Linked DNA regions of Homo sapiens. The protein of the gene in region 2 purifies or fractionates together with the protein of the main gene of each other region. This does not show direct contact. Each region holds a gene or a part of one and is shown on either strand. Other genes may lie near its edges. The genes, in order: TBC1D2B and PTCD3.

What was found.
Region 1: the proteins of PTCD3 (region 2) and TBC1D2B purify together in Homo sapiens (affinity purification with mass spectrometry; 2 studies listed by BioGRID and IntAct, with this or other methods). This does not show direct contact.

Annotation. Positions count from the first base shown.
Region 1 is NC_000015.10:78,070,633-78,086,998, forward strand, and holds the start of TBC1D2B (TBC1 domain family member 2B), read right to left. Parts: upstream 7,080-16,366; 5' UTR 7,021-7,079; coding exon 6,661-7,020; intron 1-6,660. UniProt on the Homo sapiens protein: GTPase-activating protein that plays a role in the early steps of endocytosis.
Region 2 is NC_000002.12:86,109,072-86,118,895, forward strand, and holds part of PTCD3 (small ribosomal subunit protein mS39 precursor), read left to right. Parts: intron 1-2,041; coding exon 2,042-2,087; intron 2,088-7,458; coding exon 7,459-7,527; intron 7,528-7,983; coding exon 7,984-8,088; intron 8,089-9,824. UniProt on the Homo sapiens protein: Mitochondrial RNA-binding protein that has a role in mitochondrial translation.

The DNA.
Region 1 (16,366 bases), on a different chromosome or scaffold from region 2:
CAAGGGCAGTTTTAACATTTTTATTTTGCTATTTTATTTTTTTGAAACAGGGTCTCCCTCTGTCACCCAGGCTGGAGTACAGTGGAGCAAACACAGCTCACTGCAATGTCCACCTCCTGGGATCAAGCAGTCCTCCTGCCTCAGCCTCCCAAGTAGCTGGGACTAAAGACATGTGCCATCATGCCTGGCTAGTTTGTTTTTTGTTTTGAGACAGAGTTTCGCTCTTGTCGCCCAGGCTGGAGTGCAATGGCGCCACCTCAGCTTGCTGCAACCTCTGTTTCCTGGGTTCAAGCAATTCTCCTGCCTCAGCCTCCCAAGCAGCTGGGATTACAGGCATCCGCCACCACACCCAGCTAATTTTGTATTTTTAGTAGAGACAGGGTCTCACCATGCTGGTCAGGCTGGTCTCAAACTCCTGACCTCAAGTGATCCACCCACCTCGGCTTCCCAAAGTGCTGGGATTACAGGCGTGAGCCACCACATCCAGCCACACCTGGCTAGTTTTTTTTAATTTTTGTAGGGATAGGGTCTCACTTTGTTGCCTAGGCTGGTCTCGAACTATTGGTATCAAGTGATCCTCCCATTTCGGCCTCCCAAAGTGCTGGGATTACAGGAGTGAGCCACTGTGCCCAGCTAACATTTTTAAATGGTTGAAAAAAATCAAAAGAATATTTTGCGAAATGTGAAAATTATATGAAATCCAAATTTCAGAGTCCATAACTAAAAGTTAAAACACAGCTATACTCATTCTGTGGTTGTTTCTGTACTACAACAGCATAGTGACAGATATGGCAGAGTGCGCAAAACCTAAAATAGTATGTGGCCCTTTACATAAAAAGTTTGCCTCTGCTATAACAGTGTCCTTGGAGTCCTGACCATGGGCATGAAATATATGAGACCCGAAAATATGGAACTGACTGTAAGCTCTCTCCTCTGGGGAAGGGTGAGTCATAACCCCCTTTTGGATTCCTGATGTCTGTTAAATTCAGTGGGCATTCACTGAATGGCTGCCACCTCCATGACATGAGGCAAGAATGGCATGTAATACACCTGTATATTTGGGAGTTCTGGCTGATCACTTCTAAAGGGTCAGGGCTCACACCAAAACCAGTGCTTACTGGGTGACCATTTTCTATTCATTCATGCAACAAATGTCTACCTGGGCACCTTACCTTAGTCGGTTCAGGCTGTTATAACAAAAACACCACAGACTAAGTGGCTTAAACAACAGAAATTTACTCAGTTCTGAAGGCTGGAATGTCCAAAATCAAGGTGCTGGTCAATTTGGTTCCTGGCGGGGGCCCTCTTCCTGGTTTGCAAAGGAATGCCTTTTTGCTGTATCCTCATAGGTGGAAGGGGAGATCATCTCTCCAGGGTCTCTTTTTATAAAGGCACTAATCCCATTCGTGAAGGCTCCACCCTCATGAGTTAATTACCTCCCAAAGGCCCCACCTCTAAATATCATCACACTGGGAGCTGGCACTTCAACATACGAATTTTTCAGGAACACAAACACTAGTTTATAGCATGTCTCCTTTGTGCCAGATACTGTTGCAGGAGCTGAGGATACACACAGTCCTTAGGGAGCTTACCCTCTGGTTAGCAGGAAATAGGATGGAGACTCCCCTGCAATGAGGACTGTGTGAGGCAGTGGGAGAGGGAGACGGAATGCCACTGTGATATCACAAGCACAATACTGGACTTGCCTTGAAGGAACTTACTAATTGGAAAGCCATGAAAAGTTAAATTCCCATAACTTAAAGAGTTAAATAATGCTTCAAGACTGAGCAGATGCCCTAGGGCAGAACAGCTTAGAAGAACCAAACAGCAAAGGAGGCTGGTTCACCACATCTATTTTGCACTGAAAACAATATGATTACCCAAGCCGACAAATGTTTGTCATTAAGAGAAATTTCAACACCAGGGAATGTGCATTCCCACAAAAGTGGTTAAGAATAGGGGTACACAGCTATTCAGTTACGTGTGGCTCAGAAACCAGTACACATGTCTATTTAGCACCAAGCACCTACGGAGGGAGGAATTCATTTGCTGACGGTCTGATGACGCTCTCTTGCTCCAAAGTCTGCAGAGATCTGGAAGATCAAGGCTGTTTAAGCTTCACCCTCGGTCAGTCACATGCTCTCCTTCCCCTAAGTGCCTCAGATTCCAGTAAAGCTCTGTGAGAAGCCTCCAGCACCCCTACACACAGAGAGAGACGCACACAGGAAGCATCAGCCTCTGCTAGACCCTTGCAGCAGTTTCCAGACATGTCCAGCAAAAGGTACTAGGCATCCTGGTAAAGAACTGGGCAGTAAAATGTTCCCTTGTGATACCCACTATCCAAAAAGGACAGATATTAAATGCAATAGAAGGAAAGACTACTACTACGCCTTATCCGATCCCCAACAAAGTCAAAAAAAAGCAGACTTGTCAGAACAGACAATACAATTAGATACTACACATTTTAGACATTCACTATTCCTGGAGCCTCTACTTTCAGAGAGGGTCTGAGTCTAGCTTCATGATGTTGGCAAAATCACATCCCCTCTCTAGCCTCTATTACCTCATAAGGCACCAGATCAAATCCCTAAGTTTGGGAATAGAGGAGTTTCCCAAGAAATTCCTATATCAGCTTTCATTAAGACTTACATAGAAAAACATTTTGAAAAAGCCCAACAAAACCACAGCTTCTCCAGAGAGAGCTGAAAGACACTTTTAAATAAGAAAAACATATGATAATAGAATAAGAAAAGTGCTGATTTTTCTTTACTTTTTAACCCTCTGTGATAAGAAATGGTATTTGTAAAATTATATACCACTAGCTGAAGTCTGAGCAGGGCTAAATCCTAACTTAAAATCCTTAGAAATCAGGGTCTCCTCTATGGCTGGGCAGCCCTAAAGTGAAACATTAAGGCTTAAGGGAATCAGTTCTTGCATTTGAAAGACGAAAAGGAAGATAAATTGGTAATTTCCATACTTACACCATAAAGATTTTACTCCTACAGCTCAAAAGAAATAACTGTACAATGAAATTTAATTTTCTTAAAACACACGCCTGGCTGGGTGCGGTGGCTCATATCTGTAACCCCAGCACTTTGAGAGGCAGAGGCAGGTGGATCACGAGGTCAGGAGTTCGAGACCAGCCTGGCCAATATGGTGAAACCCCGTCTCTACTAAAAATACAAAAATTAGCTGGGAGCGGTGGCACGCGCCTATAGTCCCTCAGCTCGGAAGGCTGAGGCAGGAGAATTGCTTGAACCCGGGAGCCAGAGGTTGCAGTTAGCAGAGACTGTGCCACTGCACTCCAGCCTGGGCGACACAGCAAGACTCTGTTTCAAAAAAAAAAAGGGAGCAGGGTTTTAGAGTCGGGGTGTTTTTTGCTTGTTTGTTTGTTTGTTTGTTTGTTTTTAAGGTGGAGTCTCACTCTGTCGCTCAGGCTGGAGTGCAGTGGTGTGATCTCGGCTCACTGCAACCTCCGCCTCCCGGGTTCATGCAATTCTCCTGCCTCAGCCTCGCGAGCAGCTGGGACTACAGCGTGCGCCACCATGCCCAGCCAATTTTTGTATTTTTAGTAGAGATGGGGTTTCACCATATTGGCCAGGCTGGTCTCGAACTCCTGACCTCAAGTGATCCACTCGCCTCGGCCTCCCAAAGTGCTGGGATTACAGGCATGAGCCACCACGCCCGGCCTTCTCCTCCCTTCTTCCAGAAAGCCTTGCCTGATTTCCATTCCCATTGTTGTATACAGCCAACACTCGGTACTATCTTATTCTGTGACCAATTTAATTTTACATGTCAAAATATTCCTCCATTGTCAGTAACCCAAAGGAAAATGTATTTCCTTTCTTTAAAAAAAGAAATATTCTGAACCTACAAAAAGATGGATAGCATAATAGGACAAACACTGATATACCTATGACCCAGTCCAAGAAATAAAACACTGCAAAACAGGAGAAGCCCTGAGGCACCCATTCCCAATCACATCCTCCCTCTTCCCATCACAGGCAACCACTACCTGGAAACCAGAGCTCATCAGCCCCATAAAGCTCTTCCCCTCGCGAAAGAGCATACATCCTTATGATCTGTAGTACTGTTTCACATGATCTTCCTAACCTTTCTATAAGTGGTATCATTCTGAACACAATCAGTGTGTAACTTACTTCTTGTTCAATTTTATTGTTTGTGAGAGTAATCCACGTTGACACCTATAGCTCTAGTACCTTTGTTTACTACTGCATAATATTCCACTATATGAATACACTACATATTTGGCCAAAGACACTGCTTGATGTTTCATATGCCATGTAGTGCCTACTATTTTCCATACCACTATGGAAAATGCGCCAGCCATTTTCCATAACATTCTCCAGAATCCTCACAGCCACCTAATGAGGAAGGTATGATTCCCACTAGACCAAAGAGGAAACTGGAGCAGGGAACTGGTGTAATTTGTCCAATATGTGTGAGCAGCAGACTCCTGCTTCAAGTTCAAGTCCATCGAAGTTTAAAGCCACACTTCTGACAATGCGCCTTGTAACCCTGCTTATGTAGATTCTTATTTATTATTTTTTTTTTAATTTTTTTTGAGATGGAGTCTCACTCTGTCACCCAGGCTGAGTGCAGTGGCGCGATCTCTGCTCACTGCAAGCTCTTCCTCCCGGGTTCACGCCATTCTCCTGCCTCAGCCTCCCGAATAACTGGGACTACAGGCACCCGCCACCATGCCTGGCTAATTTTTTGTATATTTAATAGACATGGGGTGTCACCGTGTTAGCCAGGATGGTCTCGAGCTCCTGACCTCGTGATCCACCCGTCTCGGCCTCCCAAAGTGCTGGGATTACAGGAGATTCAGATTATTTTAATGAAAAAAACTGATAGAGTTCTACAGTCATCTGGGAAAAATGTGAAACACGATGCTCTATTTTCTTTAACAAACATCCCACAGGAAATTCGTCCGACACAGGGACAGCCCGTATGTACACTGAGGAAGAGCCTCTGCCTTTGGCAAAGGTCTCCCACTAGGGTCATTACCAAGTTTATACAGGCACTCTCTAAGTAAGCCTGTGTAGGACTGCAACCCGAGTTGGTTTTCTTTGGGGAAACAGGCTGTCTGCACCCACTTACAGACAGGACAGGGGAGCCCAAGAGAACATGGGAATCAGATCCTGCTTGAACTGGCAAAAGCTGAGTCAGCAAAGCTCTAAGAACATCTCCAGGGAGCAGCTCCAGCTGTTAGCAGCTCTGGGGGTCTGAGGAACAGTCCTCAGCTCACAAGGCCAGGAGTTTGCCTAGTCTGCTCTCCGTGTGGCCAGCTTTGAGAGCACTTTCATACATCCCAGCCCAACCCTGTTGCTCTGGAGAAAGCCCAACCTGGAATACGGAAGAGGAGTGAGAGTGAGGGTGGAGACTCACAGAAACCAGGCAGGGAGCAAAGCCTGGAAAAAGGATACCCAGCTCCAGGCCTGGGCCCAGATCCCTCCAGATGCTCAAAGCAGGTGGGCCCCTAGGAGGTGACAGTCTAGTCCCCCAGAACTCCCAAGGACAGGGGAGGCCTTTCAGCACCAGGACTCCTGACTCTACTCTCCTGCTTCTACACTGTATCTCTCATTTTGTCTGTCCACTGGAGGATTAAGGGAGCCTCAAAGGAGCAAGGCATAACTGGCTGAAAAGACCCCCTCCCACCCATCCTGGACAAAGCAAGGAGGAAGAACACAGGATCTGCCACCTACTGGCTGTGTGACCTTAGCTGGAGCATCCCCGTCCACTCTGGAGGAAAATGTAGTGGACTGTCTCTAAGGGCCCTGCCATCTGACTCTTTCTGTCTACAGTGCTAAATGCACTCTGGCTCACGCCTGGCATCCCAGCACTTTGGGAAGCTGGATGGGGAGGATGGTTTCGGCCCAGGAGTTCGAGACTAGCCTGGGCAACATAGTGAGACCCCCGTTTCTTTAAAAAAAAAAAAAAATTTAATTAGCCAGGCGTGGTGGCCCGCACCTGTGGTCCCAGCTACTTGGGAGGCTGAGGTGGGAGGATCTCTTGAGCCCAGGCATGGAGGCTGCAGTGAGCCGAGATCGCACCCCTGCACTCCAGCCTGGACAACAGAACAAGATCCTGTCTCAAAAAGAATAAATAAACAAATAAATAAAAGCACTGACATTTACTGAGCAGTTTAAAGTATAATTCATTTAATCCCAACACCCCATGAGGTAGATACTACTGTTATCCCATTTTACAGAGGAGGCCGCTGCAGCCCAGAGCGGTTCACTGAGGTACCAAGGCCATAGGCAAAGTTCTAAAGGAGGCCCCAGGGGTAGAAGCCTACGCTCACGGATGCCTGGGAAGGCTGCACAGGACATCCACGGGATGGTGGGGGTCGGGAGACACCAGAGACTGGCCCGAGGTTAGGCGCAGAGGGAGATAATGGGTCAAGGTGTCTGAGAAAGGAGACGGGGCTTGGTAGCCCCAGCGAGACTGGCCTAAGCCCAGATAGTGGGGAGGAGATAGGAACGAGGGCGGGATGTGGAGAAGCAGGGAAAGGCAGGCCGACGTGGGCAGGGGCGAGGAGGCCTTGGAGGAAGGAGGGTGGATGGCGCAAGCCAGTGGCGGAGGCAGGGGACGCCGGCGGAAGCGCGCGGGCGGCTTTGGGGCGAGCGGTCCCACCTTGAGCACCGTGACGGCTCCCGCGCTGTGCACCTGGAAGTGCGCGGGCGGCTCCGTGCCCGGCTCCGCCGCCTCGTCGGGGCCCTGGTAGCTGAAGCAGGCGTCCGCGATGTCCAAGTGGCCGAGGGGCAGCGCGTCCTGCGGACTCTTGAAATAGTAAAGGTAGCAGCGGCGCGCGTCGAACACGAACCAGCGGCTGCGGTAGCCACGCAGGGGGCCCTTGCCCGACAGCTTCTGCAGATAGCCACACAGCCGCGCTGGCTCCCGCGCCGGACCCGCCCCGGGCTCCGCGGCCGCCCCCTGCGCCGCGCCCTCGCCGCCGCCGCCGCCCTCCTCCGCCCGGGCTCCGGCCCCCGGCATCGCTACCGCGCGCCAACCGTAGGCGCCCGCGCCCTGCGCCTCCGCGCCGCGGCCGCTGCGCCCCCTACCCCCTCCGCACCGCCCCTTCGCTCCGCACGGCCCGCGGGCGCGCAAAGCACCCTGGGACTTGTAGTCTCGCCCCCGCCCGCCCGCCGGCCGTTGCCCCCTCAGCCCCCGGAGGCAGGGTCCTGCGACCAGCACCCCGCGGGTCAGTTGCCTTCGTGCCACCTGGGCTCCAAGTCCTCGCCCTGCCGGATGAAGCAATGGTCTATTTCTTTATGGCAGTGTAGGTACATGGGAGTGTGCATCTCTCAAAACCCAGCGGAGTGTCCGCTTAAAACTGCATTTCACACTGTGTATCTTATTCTAAAAACTTGATATTTAAATCTCCCTCCTGCCAGAGTCTCAAGCTAATATTGTAAAAATGAGACAGCCTATTGCCTGGTGCTGAGTGGGTGCTCAGTAAATATTTGCAGAATTCATGAAAGCCAAAGCGTTTCCTGCCTCTCCAGACCTCAGTTCATTTATTGAATTCAACATATATTTATTGAGCGCCTTCTGAATGCCGGGTACGGTTCTGTATGCCAGGCCCTGGCGGATACAGCAGTGAACAAACCAATCATTCTCCTGCCCTCGTGGAGGTTATATTCTAGTAAGGCAGGGAGGTGACACACAAGAAAGCAGATAAAAGTAATGTGTGCTATGTTGTATAAATGCCGTGATGACATGTAAATGATTACCGCTTAAAATAGCACCTAGTATTTATCAGTGCTTTATAGACTAACTTATTTGAACACTCACAACCTGAGAAGGCAAATCTATTGCTTTGTAATAAAGCAAAGAGAAAGAATGAATAAGACCAAGTATTTGCTAGCACAACAGGGTGACTACAGTCAAAAATAATATAATTGTACGTTTAAAAATAACCAAAAGAGTATAATACAGACGCGGTGGTTCACGCCTGTAATCCCAGCAGTTTGGGAGGCCGAGGTGGGTGGATCACCTGAGGTCGGGAGTTCGAGACCAGCCTGACCAACATGAAGAAACCCTGTCTCTACTAAAAATACAAAATTAGCTGGGCGTGGTGGTGCATGCCTGTAATCCCAGCTACTCGGGAGGCTGAAGCAAGAGAATCTCTTGAACCCCGGAGGTGGAGGTTGCAGTGAGCCGAGGTTGCGCCATTGCACTCCAGCCTGGGCAACAAGAGCAAAACTCTGTCTAAAAAGAAAAAAAAAAGTATAATAGGATTGTTTGTAACACAAAGGATAAATGCTTGAGGTGATGGATACCTTACTTACCCTGATTTGATTATTATGCATTGCATGCCTGTATTAAAATATCTCATGTAACCCATAAATATATACACCTACTATGTTCCCACAAGAATAAAAAATAAGTAAAAAGCAAAGTGAGAGGATGAAGTGATGGGGGGCAGATAGCAGGCTGCTGCCCCAGGACAGGCAAGGAGGCTGGTCTGATCCTGTGACATGGAGCACAAACCCAGATGATGGGAGGGACAGGGGCAACCAGAAATGTGGGTGAAGCATTCCAGGGAGAGGGAATAGTGAGTACAAGAGCTCACTTTATTCAAAGGAAAAAGGAAGTGTATAGCTACATAGCTACATTTGTGAAAGCCCAAACCAAATATCTCACCCTCATAGATTTGCATGTTTTATACAGACACACTGAAAGACCCAGGTGGAAAACTGACCTTTCTGAGCTGGACAGGGACACAAATTAGACTGCCTGTTTGGAGCCACCCAGGTAGGAAGGGCAGGTTCTGGGTCCTCACCCAGCCTGCCGACTCTCTGCAGGCCCTAAAGTGGCACCACGCAAGCATTCCTTTCCTGGGGCCCATCAGAGGTGTGGCTGACCTCTCCACCTGTCTTTGAGCACAATCAGCACAGTGTTAAGGACTGGGCTCTGACTTCACACTGACCAGATGTGTCTCCTAGCTCTGCCACTTACCAGAGGCATGACCTTGGGCAAGTGATTTAACCTCTCTGGGCCTCAGTCTCTTCATTTATAAAACAGGGTTGATAAATACAAGTAGCTATCTCGTGCTGTTGTTATTGAAAGGGTTACGTGAGAAATGCATATGAAAGTGCTTAGCACGGTGCCTCACACATAGTAAGCACTCAGCACATATCAGCTGTTATTATTATCATCTTGCAGTTAACACCGATGTCTTCCTCATCAGTCAGCAGATTCGGAGAGGGGGAATCCAACAGTCAGACCGGGCCCAGACAAGGGAGGCCAGACACTGCGGTGCTGCGGGAGTGGAGTGGGCTGCTCTCGGGAGCAAGGGGTCCCAAGTTCAATTTGGGCCTCACCATGTATGTAAAAGGGGCTGTGACTAATTGGCTTGTGGGGTAGGCAGTCAGGGTGAGGTCTGACCTTGAAATACTGTGGGAAAGGGAAGAGCTGGGAGAACCCGGTCTGTATTGCCATGGTACAGGGAGGCAACAGGACAGGGGAGGGTGTAGCCCATCTCTCCTAGATCTATCAGTAAGTTATAAGGAAGTGGGGGTGGCCATGACCTGTGGTCCCAGTGGACAGGACCAAGCCCCATGAGGTGTCTCACGGGGGCCGATGTCTGCTAGGCCCGAGGAAGGCATCCTTCACAGGCACAAGCCACGAGCCCCCCTCCTGGACTAAGAGTCTGGGCTGGCTGGCCAGGGCTAGGCAGATGGGACGGGACAGGGGTGCTGTTTTAAGCGGTAATCATCTACATGTCATCACGGCATTTATACAACATAGCACACATTACTTTTATCTGCTTTCTTGTGTGTCACCTCCCTGCCTTACTAGAATATAATCTCCACGAGGGTAGGAGAATGATTGGTTTGTTCACTGCTGTATCCGCCAGGGCCTGGCATGCAGAACCGTACCTGCTGTCTGTGCCCCTCAGTGGGCAAGCTGGACTTCAGCCTGACTCCCCTACACCTGAGCCTCCAATCCTTCCCTGGTCACCCAGCACAGATGAGCTGGGGCCATTTTAAAATGCTTGCAGGGCTGAGTGTGGTGGCTCACGCCTGTAATCCCAGCACTTTGGGAGGCCAAGGAGGGCAGATCACAAGGTCAGGAGTTTGAGACCTGCCTGGGCAACATGGTGAAAACCAATCTCTACTAAAAATACAAAAATGAGCCAGGCACGGTGGCACGTGCCTGTAATCCCAGCTACTCAGGAGGCCGAGGCAGGAGAATCGCTTGAGTCTGGGAGGAGGAGGTTGCAGTGAACCAAGATCGTGCCACTGCACTCCAGCCTGGGTAACAGAGCAAGGCTCTGTCTCAAAATAATAATAATAATAAAAATAAATAAAATGCTTGTAAGCCACTGCCCTCTTCCTTCTGGAGGCCACACCTGACATCATATCAAACATATTAAAATGCTCTACATCCCGTAGTAAACATATACATAATTTTTGCTATGAAAATGTTTTCAGGAATATCCATAATTGTGCTCTTGATATTATCTAATTATGAGTTTTCATTTTCATTTTTAATTGGCTGATTTCTTGGCAATCATCGTGTCTGTGTGGGAATTTTGGCCAAGTGAGAGAAACCTAACCTAGAAATTGTTCTCAAATGTAATGACCTTTTTTTTTTTTTTTTTTTTGGAGATGGGTCTCATTGTGTCACCCAGGCTGGAGTGCGGTGACGCTACCTCAACTCACTGCAACCTCCCCCTCCTGGGCTCAGGCAATCCTCCCACCTCAGCCTCCTGAGTAGCTGGAACCACAGGTGTGCGCAGCACCACGCTCAGCTAATTTTTGTATTTTTTGTAGAGATAGGTCTCTGCTATGTTGCCCAGGCTGGTCTCAAACTCCTGGTCTCAAGTGATCCTCCCACCTTGGCCTCCCAGAGTGCTGGGATTAAGGCATGAGCCAAGGTGCCCAGCTCTGTTATGACATTTTTATGATGACTATAAAGGTGACATGTTACATTTGTAGACATTTAATTAGATGTTCATTAATTCTAATTTTGCTGTTTTTCTTGGGTTTTAGAGCCAATACATTTTTCTTAGGCCACAAACATTTCACAGGCCTCTCAAGCAGGCAGGCCCAGGCACTGAGCTTTTTAGTATATTAGGGGATAAACTGGCCTGGCCCCTGCCTCGGTCTGGCCGGGTCCAGAATATGGCCCTCTGAGGAGGCTGCACAGACACAGGCCTGAGTCCCCAGTGAGAGTGGTAAAGTATGGAGGCCTCAAAGCCAACAGCAATGTCTCAGGAGGGTCCCCTGGAGGGCCCTGAGTCTCTGTCTACCCGACCAGGCTTAGGAAGTGGCCCAAGCCTTCCAAGGATCCCTAGAGCCTCCAGAATCAACCCTAAAACCCTCTTGACTCTCTAGACCTCCCCCAGGCCCCTCTTCCCCACTGACTCTCTCAAGACCCTGCTGAAATGCTTTTTATTTCGTGAACAAACCCTTCTCCCCTCATTCCTAGGGCCATGAGCTGAGGAGAACTAGGCAATGGGGCTTTATCTCATCTCTCTTAGTACCTCCATCTTCAGTCTGGACAATGTTTATAGTTTATGTAAATAGATATAGCTTCAGTTCTTCCCAAGGGCCTCCTACATGGAAATGTTGGGGCTGTCTCTGGTGGCTCCTAATTCCCTGAAACCCTTCGTAAATGGTTTGTTGACATCTGCAGTTCCTGAGGTCTCTTAGATTAAACAGTGATGTCCTGTGGTCAGGGCCAGCTTTATACAGCCTGTGTACCTTCCCTGCATCTAGTACAGGCATGAGAGGTGTTGAGGGGTCTGCCCTGCATGCCCATGTAAGCCCCTGCTTCCTCGAGCCGTCCAGGAACCCAGTGACCAGAAGGAAGTAACCACCCAGGAGGAAGTAGCTGGTGTTTACTGAAAAGGGGAAATTTGGGCAGTAAACTTGCTCCTACATGGCCAGCCTCTGGGAAAACCCTAGGGGAACACAGAGCCAGTGACTCATCCTAGGTCAGTCTCCCCAGAGTTGGTAGCATGTGCCCAGAGGCCTCTGAAGAAGCACTCACTGCACACTGCCTTTGTAGCTGTCAGACTCCAGGGAGACAGAGCTGGCCGAGATGCTGACCTCCCGTTGGAGGAGTGCACAGATCTGCAGGAGGCCCAGAGAGGAAAACAGCCTTATCACCTGTATGCTGTATGCCCCAGGGCATGTCCCTGCCCTCTCTGGGCTGCAGTTTTCCACCTGCACAACAAGGAGACGGATGGCTAAGTGATGTCCAAAGGCCTGCCCCTGCCTGCTCAGAAACACAACAGTGGCCTGAGACACAGCTGTGAGGGCCTGCAGTCATTCTTCCCACAGCTCTGCAGGCCAGTGGAGGCTATGCTCTTTTCAGTCCCACTGCTCAAAGCCCTCTGGACTGTTGCAGCCATCACAACCAAGCTGCCCCATCCCCTCAGGGCTCCACTCCATCTACAGGCTTGGCTGCCCACTGCAGTTGGTGCAAACATGACCCCTTTGAGGTGACACTTTTGCATCCTATGACCCTGGGCCCTGAAGGAGAAGCAGCCCTAATCGTCACCCCCATCCGGGGCACAAATGAAGGCCTTGTGTCCCTGAGGCAGACAGAAGCAGAGATAGCTGTGTTACTTGGGGGTTGGACAATGCTATCCTCGTAGGTCCTTGTGAAGGAAGTTGGCCTGATGAGGAGGGGATGGGGTGGGTGAAGAAGGTTGGGGGACTGGAGCTGTGAATGGGCCGAGCGCTGGAGGGCTAGGGGCAGGGCAGAGAAGAGCAAGCCCATCCTCAGAGCAGAGGATGCTTTGACCAGAGCACACAGCTGCCACAGGGAGACCCCAGACCAGAGAGAGGGCTTTCCAGGTATGTCCGCAAAGCTCTGAAAGGGGGCACCCTGCACCAAGCCTACTGCCCTGGTGGGAGGTTGTTGGGGGTACTGGGGCAGGGGTAGGGTGGTGGGGGAGTGGTTTCAAAATAAAGAAGGGGGCTGGGCCTGATGGCTCACACCTGTAATCCTAGCACTTTGAGAGGCTGAGGCGAGTGGATCACTTGAGCTCAGGAGTTTGAGACCAGTCTGGGCAACATGGCAAAACCCCATCTCTACAAAAAATTAGCTGGGCATGGTGGTGCATGCCTATAGTCCCAGCTACTTGGGGGTCTGAGGCAGGAGGATTGCTTGAGCCCAGGAAGTCAAGGTTGCAGCGAGCTGAGATTGCGCCACTGCACTCCAGCCTGGGTGACAAAGTGAGACCCTGTCTCTAAGTAAATAAATAAGGAACTATGGGCGCTTGGGCCAATCTCCCAGCCTCTCTGTGCCTCAGATTCCTCATCTGTACAATGGGGCATAATAACATTTACCCCTTAGAGCTGCTAGGGGCTTAAATGAGCCAGTAAATGCAAAACACTGGACACAGTCGCTGACGTACAACAAGTCTCAGTTTGGTAACTAATTCATTTAACAAACATCCCTGGCTCCTGCTCTTTGCCTCTGGCTGGTGATGGGTGGTGCTGAAAACTCACCACAAGACTAGGCCTGGCCCCACTGCAGGAAGCTCTCAGTTTTGTCAGGTGGGACAGCCTCAGAGAGAACAGCCCCAGCAAGGGAGCCCAGGGCTCTCAGACCATCTTGGACTGTGGACTCTGGCTTCCAGTAGGCCTCATTTCCCTACCAAATTGGCAGTCAAATTTGCATACCTCCTGGCTCTTTTTCTGAGAGGGAACAAATCTGAGGTGCTGGCCAATCTCCCAGCCCTGGGGCCAGGGGACCGAGGCTCAGACAGATGGAGGTCTGGGTGTCTCTGGGAGCTGATAGAGGGTAGAGGGTTGGCAGGGGCTTGGTACCAGGCAGTCAAGCCCAGCATGGGAGACAGGGAGAGTCACACTGCCCCAGGAGCAGGGGAGCACTAGACCCTGAGGAGGCAATGGGCCGCAGCTGCAGAGGCCTTGTGTCCTTCCTGTTACCACCCTGTTCCCAGGGCCTGGCGCCCGGCCCAGCACAGCGTAGTCCCCTCTGCCTTCACCTTTCTGCTTCCTAGAGGCCCTCATGCTGTCCCCTTCCCAGTGCCCCCATCACTCAGCCAAATCTGATCTCGGACACTTCCACCCTTCCCACACAAGCAGCAGGGACTAAAACCTACTTTGAGGCCAAGTCTGGAAGGTGGGGCATTTTAACTGACAGCTTAAAGAGATGCTGTTCTGATGGTGGAAGTTCAGGCATTCTTCTGGTTGGGCGAAGGGGTCTACGAAAGGAGTTTACGGCGTACTTATGTGAGCAAAGCAATGAAGAGGGAAGCGGGAAGAAGGCAGTCAGGATACATGAAGACAGGCACAGAAAAGACCCAGAAGAAGTAGATTCTGGAGTGGGAGGAATGTTTTTAAATGTGTTTCTTATTTGGAAGTTTGACTACATTGACTATTAATTTTGAATTAATGCATTTTTAAAGTATTTAAAGAATTTGGGTAGCAGGGAAAATGGCTGGAGCAATGGCATGGGAGGAGGATGCAGCATGTATAGGGGAGGAGGATGGGGTACGAGATTCTCGACTTGGCCCTGCCATGGACTTACTCCTTGTCTTGGACAGGCCATTTCCATTCTTGAGTTTCAGTGTCCCTGTCTTTATAATGGGAAAAAATGGGGACAGTAATGCTACCTTGTATACCTGCTATAAAGATGAAAGGAAATCATGTATGTGTGTATGTGAAGTACTTGGCACCTGGTAAGGGCTCAAAATCATTAGGAATCTACGGAGGACCTCTGTTTTCCCAGCTGTAAAGTGAGGGGAAGGGAGACAGGGATAGGACTAAATTGAGGAGCAAGCCCAGGGGCCCCAGCTGCCCAAGTTGCTAGGTGTACCAGGTCTCTGCAGCTGGGCCCCACGGTGGCCATCTGGCCTCCAAAAGGCTGTAGAATGAGGGTTCTCAAAATTATGGTCCTTGGCCCCTTGTCTTCCCTATGGTCCCTAAACTGATCCCAAAATCTCGTCCCTTCTCCAGCTGTCATGAGCAAACAGCAAGCAACTCTGAAGAATTTCACTTTTACATGGGACTCAGAAATACTCACTAGTGAGTCTGGATTATCTATAGCAAAATTAACTTGCGTCTTGTTCTTGCTGCTGAAACTGAGAGGTACACTGACAAGGGAGCCTCTCTGATCTAAGGGGTGGTTTTCCGCTCTGGGCTGTCAGGAGCAGAGACTACAGGCCCAGAGCCCCCCAGATGGGTGCTTTATGGCGCAGATGAGGTTGGCAATGTTTTTAAGACCGTGGTAGGTCCAGGGCACTCTCACCTTTGGAGTCTCCATCTCACTACTATCAAATATATGTAATTTTTAAATGGCATGGCCATATTTTACAATAAAAATATATATGTCTTTTGCTTTAAGCTTTTTGGAAAGGATTATTCTTATGATTTTGCTTTTGAAATGATTTGGCCTTGAGGAATTCATTTCACTTGCAATTGGTAATGATTTCTTGGCAGTCTTCTTGCACACTTGAGGATTTTTGTGAGCTAAGATAATCTGGCCTCCAAACCATTTTCAGATGTGATGAAACTTTTATGAATACGAAATGAAGCTGATGCAATATTACATAGTATAGACATTTACTTATACATTTATTCATTGTGATTTTGCATTTTTCTCCTTTTGAATTTTGGAGCCAATACTGGTTGTTTGTTTGTTTGTTTCTTCCAGGTCTCAGATCTTTTTATAGGCCCTTGGAAAGTTCCCAGCCCAGTACCTGGCCATTGTCCTAAGGATAAAATAGAACCACCTGTGTTTGGTGGGAGAAGGGCTGAGGGGGACCTCTCTGGACACTGCCCTCCCCAACCAGCAGCCATGTAGAAAGATGGCAAGACGAAGTCACTCAGTGGCCTTGAGGGACCAAAAGGATCACGATAACATTGGTGACTTCTCTGGACCAGCCATAGCCCTCTCCGCTGGTTTTTCCTGCATGCTGGGGGCCTCAAAATGACTGAAATTGAAAATATTATTCATTCATTTATTCAGTATTTACTGAGCCATAAATCAATACAACGCTTAACGAAAGCAATTTGGCATCATCTGCTAAAATGACAACTGCAAATACCCTTTGATTCAGCGATTCCACTTTCGAGAATGTGTTTCATGGATGTATTTATTCTTACACTTAATCAAATCCATATAAGGTTATCCATTGCTGCATTTTCAGGAATTAAAAAAAATTGGAAACAACTCAAATGACCATCAATAGAGGACTGGTTACAAAAATTATTATGTATTCATACAATGGAATAATATGCAGCTGTGAAAATAAGAATGGCACCCCTCTCTTTAGTCTTGTGGAAGGAGTGCCAAGATACACTGTTGAATTTTTTTTACAAGGCAAGGTGCAGAATGCTGTATAGTACTC
Region 2 (9,824 bases):
TGGCCCCTCAAAAAGCTAGGTCTTAAAATTATGTGACCTAAAGACTCGGGTTCGCCAGGCGCGGTGGCTTACGCCTGTAATCCCAGCACTTTGGGAGGCCGAGGCGGGCGGATGATGAGGTCAGGAGATTGAGACCATCCTGGCTAACACGGTGAAACCCCGTCTCTACTAAAAATACAAAAAAATTAGCCGGATGTGGTGGGGGGTCGCCTGTAGTCCCAGCTACTCGGGAGGCTGAGGCAGGAGAATGGCGTGAACCCGGGAGACGGAGCTTGCAGTGAGCCGAGGTCGCGCCACTGCACTCCAGCCTGGGCGACAGAGCAAGACTCCATCTCAAAAAAAAAAAAAGACTTGGGTTCATTTAAAAAGACTTTTTTAAGAACTTTATTAATCTGAACTGTGTGATTATTTTAGGGAGGCCAGGGAGCCCAGTGATGTCAATGCATAGGTAACTGGGATCATAAAAGAAGTGCAAATTAAAACTTACCGTATTGGCAGAGAGAGGATTTGAAGAAATACGTTTGTTTATGGGACAGTAAATTGGAACAGCTCTTTGGAGGGAAATTTGGCAGAATCAGAATTGGAAATGTGCGTACCTTACTGGTTAGCCACTTTGGAGGAACATTTGCATATATACATGGACAAGACTGTTCTTTATTACTTGGGAATAGTAACAGGTTGAAACAGCCTGAATGCCCATTGAAAAGTGAATGGATAATTTTAAAAGGTTATCATACAATAACTTTTTACATTGAAAGGAATTAATTAGCTCTATATTTAATAACATGGATAGTGCAGCCAAACTTATGTAGACACATGCAGAATGACAGTGTGTATACGTTTTTTAGGGAGATGTTTATGTGTGAAAATACCTTTAAAAGTTCTGGAAATACAAATACCAAATTCATCGTGGAGAGGGGTCACAAGATGACACCAGACACTTTAGGTTAACGTGTAATGTTCTAGTTTATTTTTTTAAGATAATGTATGATACCTTTTAAAGTAACCCTTTAAAGAAAGAGAATTAGTGAGTAATCTGAATGTCATCATTTTTTCACTGCCATTTGTTCAATATGTTAGGAAAGTTTGCTAACTTGATAAGACTTAAATAGGGCAATAAAAGATCTGCTGAAGGAATGCTGACAGATGAGAGAATGTGTCGTTATCACACTTGCTGAAATTACATAAATGTGACTTCTAAACGTGGATAGAAAATTTAGTGGATATTATGTACATCAGGGAATTAGTTTTGATGAAATATAAAATTTCCTGTACTTTTGTTTTTCTCAGATGACTTATAGTCTTAAGAATGTTATGTTAAACTTTATTTAGAAAAATACTCTTGGTATAATTCCCTTTTGGAAAGGAAACACATTAAATCTAACATAGGAGCACAAATATATTTGAGATCAAATTATCTTGTCTGTCATTTATTCCAGTGAAGCCTTTTCTAATAGTTCAGTAAAGGTCTCTACTCAGAGGTGCAGTGGACAGCTGGCCTGCAATTCTTACCATAACGTTATATATGGTTGAGAGGTTCTAAACCAGGAGGTTGCATCAGAATTATCTGGGAATTCAGTAAGAGTGTGTGTGACAGTCCTCCATGGATCTTGGGAGGCTTTGATGCAATAGGTCCAGAGTGAAGCCTGTGGTTTATTCTCCTATAACTGAATCAAGAGCTACCAATTAGGATAGTAAAGGCAACAGTAGTCCCGAAAGCTGCAGTAAGAATCCATAGGAAAGTGGGTAGAGGAAGTAGGCCAGATAGTTTTATGAGGGCGGGATGGAAATCACTAGCCCTGGGTTATGGCATTATGCACCAGGCCAGAGAGGACAGGCAAAGAGAGGAACATGTACCAACTAGGGGAAAGAACCAGCAGTTTTCTTAATTTCTAATTTATTCTAGTGACCTTGTGACATAACCAGCTTCAGATGAGATCTGCACTATGTTATTGGCCAGTACACTGAGAGTAGAATCACTTGTTCGGTTTGTGGCTATGAAGAGCCCTGATGAGGATTAACTTGTGGTTCTTATTTTTAGGGATAAAGTAGCCGTTCTTCAGGCACTTGCATCCACAGTAAACAGGGTAAGTAGGATTTTGTGTTTTTTTTTAACCTAAAACTTGGCTAATAACACACTTTTTAACTCGGCTAATAACACATTTAATACTCATACCTCGTCATTACTCAGAATTAAACTGTTGTGCGTCTAGAAAGTTTCTTTAAAATTGTCTAGGCCGGGCGCGGTGGCTCACGCCTGTAATCCCAGCACTTTGGGAGGCCGAGGCAGGTGGATCACAAGGTCAGGAGATCGAGACCATCCTGGCTAACACAGTGAAACCCCGTCTCTACTGAAAATATAAAAAATTAGCCAGGCGTGGTGGCAGGCACCTGTAATCCCAGCTACTTGGGAGGCTGAGGCAGGAGAATGGCGTGAACCCAGGAGGCAGAGCTTGCAGTGAGGAGAGATCGCGCCACTGCACTCCAGCCTGGGCGAAAGAGCGAGACTCTGTCTCAAAAAAAAAAAAATTGTCTAATCCAGCTGAGCCAGGTGGCTCATGAATGTGATCCCAACACTTTTGGAGGCCAAAGTAGGAAGACCACTTGACATCAGGAGTTCAAAACCAGCTTGGGCAATGTAGCAAGACCCCCATCTGTTTTTTGTTTGTTTGTTTGTTTTGTTTTGTTTGAGACAGAGTTTTGCTCTTGTTGCCTTAGGCTGCAGTGCAATGGCGCGATCTCGGCTCACCGCAACCTCCACCTCCTGGGTTCAAGCAATTCTTCTGCCTCAGCCTCCTGAGTAGCTGGGATTACAGGCATGTGCCACCACGCCCAACTAATTTTGTATTTTAAGTAGAGACGGGGTTTCTCCATGTTGGTCAGGCTGGTCTCGAACTCCTGACCTCAGGTGATCCACTTGCCTTGGCCTCCCAAAGTGCTGGGATTACAGGTGTGAGCCACTGCGCCAAACTTTTTTTTTTTTTTTTTTTTAATTTATTTTTTGAGACGGAGTCTTGCTGTGTCGCCCAGGCTGAAGTGCAGTGGCACAGTCCCGGCTCACTGCAAGCTCTGCCTCCCAGGTTCATGCCATTCTCCTGTCTCAGCCTCCCGAGTAGCTGGGACTACAGGCGCCCGCCGCCACGCCTGGCTATTTTTTTGTATTTTTAGTAGAGACGGGGTTTCGCTGTGCTCACCAGGATGGTCTCCATCTCCTGACCTCCTGATCCACCCGCCTTGGCCTCCCAAAGTGCTGGGATTACAGATGTGAGCCACAGTGCCCGGCCTTTTTTTTTTTTTTTTAAGAATAAAATTATTGGCCAGGAGCAGTGGCTCACATCTGTAATCCCATCACTAATCCCATCACTTTGGGAGACCGAGGGAGGCTGATTGCTTGAGGTCAGGAGTTCGATACCAGCATGGTGAACATGGTGAAACCCTGTCTCTACCAAAACAACAAAAACAAAAATTACGAGGCATGGTGGCACCTGTAGTCCTACCTATTCAGGAGGCTGAGGCAAGAGAATCTCTTGAACCTGGGAGGCAGAAGTTGCAGTGAGCCAAGGTCCTGCCACTGCATTCCAGCCTGGGTGAGTTAGTGAGACTCTGTCTCAAAAAAAAAAAAAAAAAAAAAAATTTAAAATAAAATTATCAAATCCCTTTATTTGGCAAAGGAGGAAGCTAAGGTTTTGAAAGTGGCCAGTGGCTGGTTAGGATGTTAAAACCTTAATTAAAGGCTTAATTTCACGCCTTTTATCTCGAAATGCAGTGTTTTTCTACCATACCAGTGATCTTTAATCCCTGGAAGGGCTTGTTGAAATGTATGTTCTTAGGGGACGATTTGGCTGTAGTATACCAACTTGGAGAAATAATGTACCTGTCATGCTGACAATCATGTAATGATTAATAATCTGGGTCCTGGAGCCTACTGGTTTGTTTTAATAGCCAAGCAACTAGCTTTATGATCTTAGGGAAGTTACTTTACCTCTTGATACTTCTGTTTCCTGACTTATAAATTGGGGGTTAATTATAGCACCAAACCTCAAGGTTGCAGTGGAATTATTAACAAATGAATTAAGTATACGTAAGATTTAGGATAGAGTCTGGGACAAAGGAAATTCTTGGTACATTGTATTTTGTTACTGCTACTACTGTATTGTTGATTTCATTGACATGAAATTTTCTCTGTTGGCAACTCAAGAGTAGAGTTTGTAGTCTGGTAGATACACTGAAACTTTGGTAAATGCATCAGAAATGGAACTTTCTGCTTGGTTGTATTTTTTATTAACCAAAAACTTTTAATTTCGTCTGTGGGGAAAAGTCTAAAATAATTAAGTCTTTTTTTCTGCCACAGTATCTGTATGGATATTGATCCTCCTTAAGTCGATTATTACAAGTACGCAGAATTGTTCTTCTATTGTGGATATTAAACTACATCTAAAAATGGAACTACTAGGCTGGACATAGTGGCTCATGCCTGTAATCCCAGCAGTTTGGGAGGTCAAGGCGGGTGGATCCTGTGAGCTCGGGACTTTGAGATCAGTCTGGGCAACATGGTGAAACCCTGTCTCTACAAAAAAACACAAAAATTAGCTGAGCGTGGTAGTATGCGCCTGTAGTCCCAGCTACTTGGGAGGCTGAGGTGAGGCTCACTTGATCCTGGGAGGTGGAGGTGGAGGTTGCGGTGAGCCAGGATCGCACCACTGTACTCCACAGAGTGAGACCCTGTCCCCCCCGCCACACACAAAAAAATTAAATATAAAATAAAGATGGAGCTACTAAAGATAGTGTTGGGTCTAATGTGCACTGGTGTACTCTACCAGTTTCTGAAAAAGGACTTTACTACATCTCCCTACTTGCAAAGCATTGAGATTTTCAGTAGCTCACTTATCCATAAATAGGCACCTGAAATGTAAACATAGAAATGGACCTCCGAGATATTCTCAACATTTCAATGAGAATGGCCCAGGGCCACTTTCAAATCAAAGAAGTTATAGAATTGTGTGTAGAATTGTGACTTATCTGGCCCTTAAAATCCAAGAGTTATTCGTTTATCCATTCATTCAGCAACAATATTTTGTGCCCTTATGATGCTTATCAAGCACTGTGCTGGATATAGAATTAGACACAGATATTGTGTAGTTCTAGAGGGGAAGACTGAGGTAGCACTGAGAAGGGGTTGTATCGCCAAGACTGAGAAAGGAATTCTTTTTTTTCTTTCTTTTTTTTTTTTTAAAGAGACGGAGTCTCCCTCTGTCACCCAGGCTGGAGTGCAGTGGCGCAATCTCAGCTCACTGCAAGCTCTGCCTCCTGGGCTCACGCCATTCTCCTGCCTCAGCCTCCTGAGTAGCTGGGACTACAGGCGCCCCCACCCCCACGCCCGGCTAATTTTTGTATTTTTAGTAGAGACGGAGTTTCACTGTGTTAGCCAGGATGGGGGTAAAGGAATTCTAAGCAGACATTTTAGAAAAGAGAGCTATGTGGAGAATGGGAAAGCTTTCCACTTGAGAGTGTGATAAAGAGCTTAGCATATCCAAAACCAAACCCCATTCCCTCCAAACATTCCTCACATATTTCTTTGCCATCTCATTAATGGCAACTCCATTCTTATAGCTGCTCAGGCCAAAATCCTGGGAATTGTTAGCAAAGCCTTTGTTTATCCCTTCAAAAGATACGTGTGTGTGAGGTCTCCGTGACCACTCCCAGGCTAAGAGTTATGACAGCAAGAAGATACAAAGCAAAGTCAGCAAAGAGAAAAGGCTCATTGGATAAAGACCAAAAGAAATCAGTCACAAGCTTCCAAAAGACCTCTCCAGAAGATTCAACACAGGACATGCTTAATTCCTCCATCAGTGACTTGTGACAACACATGCAAAGTGTCTACCAAAGCTCATTAGAGACCCAGTGCCCAGAGTTTTTAGGGGAGGCTGGCCATGTAGACCACCCACTGGCTGGCATATATTATACCAAGTTTCCATACTCCCAGAAGGGAAGCAGGTGTTTGGCACAAAACACGTTGTACAAACAGGTTAGGCACAGTGAACCATTCTTAGCAGTTCTAGGAATGGTGAGAACCCTTCCAATATCCAGGTTCCCAGATGGCAGCCAAGGGCCAGCCTTGGACGCAGACCTTCCTAAGGATAATGGTTTCAGGTCTGTTAACTCTTTTCTGCAAAATATCAAAATTTTAGATGCCTGATATCACTACCAGTCACCTTGGTTATTGTCGTCTTACAAGTCTGGATTAATTGCAGCAGTCTCTGTCGTCTCCCACTGCACCTCCCTGCACACTGCTCTCAGTTCAGCAGCTGTAGTGACCCTGGATCATATCACTCTTAAGAATTCAACATTGGCTTTCCATTAGTATAATTCAAATAAAAACTGAAGTTCACAACAGGGCTGCTAAGGTGAGGCTCAAGGGAAAGGGGTTTTTGAAAGGGGTAGCAGAAAGCTAGGTCCAAAATAAAACACTGCCTCCAGGTTCCAGGTATGAGCAGCTTTCCGTTGAGAGCTGCAGGGAAGCTTCTGTGCCCCCTCCCTGAGGAGTCCAGGTCAGTAAAACAGCATTAAGGATATAGGATAAGTTTTTGCTTTGGAATAAAGGCCCAAGTAAGGCACTCAGACACAGAAGAGAATAAAGAAAGCAATTCTGGGGCATTTCTCAGTGGGGCCCCTGGTGGTATTGGAGAGTTGATTATGCTCAGGTTTAGGGAGCAATTTTAATGGGTAACAGGACGTGGGAGAAGGTTCTGTTGTTCATTCCTCAGAGGGCACGGTGATATCTTCCATTTGGAGGAGGGACTCTTGGTGAAGTTGAGCGTGGGTGGATAGTGACCTTGCTTTGGAGGAAATCCTATTCTGGGATTCTGCTGTTAGGACTAGTTAATTCAGATGATTCTTACCTAGAGTTTAAAACAGTCCCCAGTGGTAGCAAACTTAAATATTAAAATCAGCCATGGGGAGGGAGGCTTAAGCCATTGCTTGCCTTGCATAATTAAAGGCAAGTCTTGTAGAGCTGAGAGTACAGTGCAGGTGTTTGTCTTTTGTCTTTTTTCTCTATATATACATGTATATATGCCCACACACGTTTGCGCATTTAGGTTACATACATAATTACAACTTACGGAATTTTTGTTTATCAAAACTCACAAGGTCCTCTTAAAAATTTAGCTAGAAAGACTTGTGGGCTGGATACAGTGGCTCACGTCTATAATCCTAGCCCTTTGTAAGGCAGAAGTGAGAGAACTGCTTGAGGCCAGGAGTTTGAGACCAGCTTGGGTGACACAGCAAGACACCCTCTCTGCAAAAAATTTTGTGAAATGGCCAGCTGTGGTGGCACACACCTGTAGCCTAGGCTACTTGGGAGGCTGAGGCAGGAGAATCCCTTGAGTCCAGGAGCTAAAAGTTACAGTGAGCTGTCTTCAAAATAAATATAGAAATTGTATTATGTCTTTTCCACAGGATACCACAGCTGTGCCTTATGTGTTTCAAGATGATCCTTACCTTATGCCAGCATCATCTTTGGAATCTGTGAGTATTTTCATATAATTTTCTAGTGTTTTATCTCTCTGGTTTGCGTACAACAGTACATAAATAATTTAGTTGTAATAACCTGGGAAAGGTTTACAAATGCTGAGAAATTGATAGACTATGTGAATCCTTTACTACTTTCTTCAAAAAGATGTACATATCGTCAATGGGGAAAGGATTTTTGGTTTTGGTTTCTAATACTTAGGGCTTTTTCACACTGGAGTGACCCACTCAGTTTAAATGGCTTGCTTTTTATATATTTCAAGCTGTGTATAAGATGCTAACTGAAATTATATCACAGTAGAAAAGGTGGGATAGTCTATAATTTCTAATTGGGATTCTGCGTGTTGTTGCATTTGTTTTTTTTTGTGAGGGGGGAGAAATTCTTGCTGAGAGTGTAACTATAATCTTGCTTGAGTTTAAATTACATGTATTTAAATCTTTTTCTTTATATAGCGTTCATTTTTACTGGCAAAGAAATCCGGGGAGAATGTGGCCAAGTTTATTATTAATTCATACCCCAAATATTTTCAGAAGGACATAGCTGAACCTCATATACCGGTAAGGAGAGGTAGTTACATTATTTACATAATACTATTTTAAATGTAAATTAAACCAGGCTTTCATGGCTAATATTTCAGTAGCTATTTGAATACCCTCAATATTTGGATGATAAGCCTTTTAAAGTGTGGAGTTAGCTTTGATCACAAGACTAACTTTAAAATTCTTTCTGTATTTATTTGCTCTTCATCTTAATATTTTCCCCATTTGATTTTTGTGACACCATGCTCTTAGGTCTTTAATTCTATGACTGAAGTTTCCTTCACTACCTCTCTATACACATCTTTCTCTTCCTTTTTTTTTTTTTTGAAACGGCATCATGCTGTCACCCAGGCTGGAGTGCAATGGTACAATCATAGCTCATTGCAGCCTGGAACCCCTGGGCTCAAGTGATCCTCTTGCCTCAGCCTCACAAGTAGCTTGGACTACAGGGGTGTGCCACCATGCCTGGCTGATTTTTTTTAATTTTTAGTTTTTGTAGAGAACAGGGTCTTGTCTCACTGCACTGCCCAGGCTGGTCTCAAATTTCTGGGCTCAAGCAAACACCCTTCTCAGCCTCTGCAATCTCTGGGATTGCAGGTGTAAGCCACTGCTGCTTGCTCTTGATCCGCTTCTTTTTTTGTTTGTTTTTGTTTGAGATGGAGTCTCACTCTGTTGCCCAGGCTGGAGTGCAGTGGCACGATCTTGGCTCACTGCAGCCTCTGCCGCCCGGGTTCAAGCAATTCTCCTGCCTCAGCCTCCTGAGCAGCTGGGATTACAGGTGCCTGCCACCGCACCTGGCTAATTTTTATAGTTTTAGTAGAGACGGGGTTTTACCATCTTGGCCAGGCTGGTCTTGAACTCCTGACCTCGTGATCCACCCGACTTGGCCTCCCAAAGTCCTGGGATTACAGGTGTGAGCCACCGTGTCCGGCCTTGATCCACTTCTTAAGCATGGGTATCTTTCTTAGATTTTTATGCTCATTTTCTCTTTTTATTGTGTATACTCTTCTGTTTCAGTGACGCTTATAATCCATTTGGTACTCTTTTGTATATCTAGCCTAGATCCCTTTACTTTGAACTCCACATTGTATTTCCAGCTCCCTCTTTGTTCTGTAGTTTTGGAGTGAGGATTTATGCAGTGTGGTGGGTATTGTGCTTAGTGCTTGTCCATACAGTGGTGAGCAAAACAGATGCGCCTCTGCCCTCCTGAGTTTGTTGGTGGAAGTACTAATCTCAGACTCATCATATCTAAACTGCTCCCATATCCCTACATCTCTCTGCTTCCCAAAGCTCACAGGGAAACACACACTTCTTGTTTTCATAGTAGAACTTGCACATAGATGAGGAAGCCAGTGTGATTGTGTAAGTCAAAATATTAAAATCCTAAACTAAGACAGTGTCTTTCTCCATTAGATTGTGAGCACCCTGAAGGTAGAGAATGCCTTTCGTCTCTGTATCCCCAGTGCCAAGCTTAATGTCTGGGGTAAAATAGTAGGCATTCAGAAAGTATTTGAATAAGTTAGTGAATGAGGTAAAATCAGCATACCTTGGGTAGTATTAAATGTTTAGATGATACACAGCATTAGAGATGAAAGGTTTAGTTCAATTCCCTGTGAAGACAGTGATGTTAAAATGATCAGTAGTATCTGGTGCAGGAAACATGAATTGGAGCAGTGAAGTTTTACTTTGGTATGTTGGTGATAAAAGTTTTGTCCTACTCAGTTATCCTTCCCTCACCTTTACCTGTTTGTAGT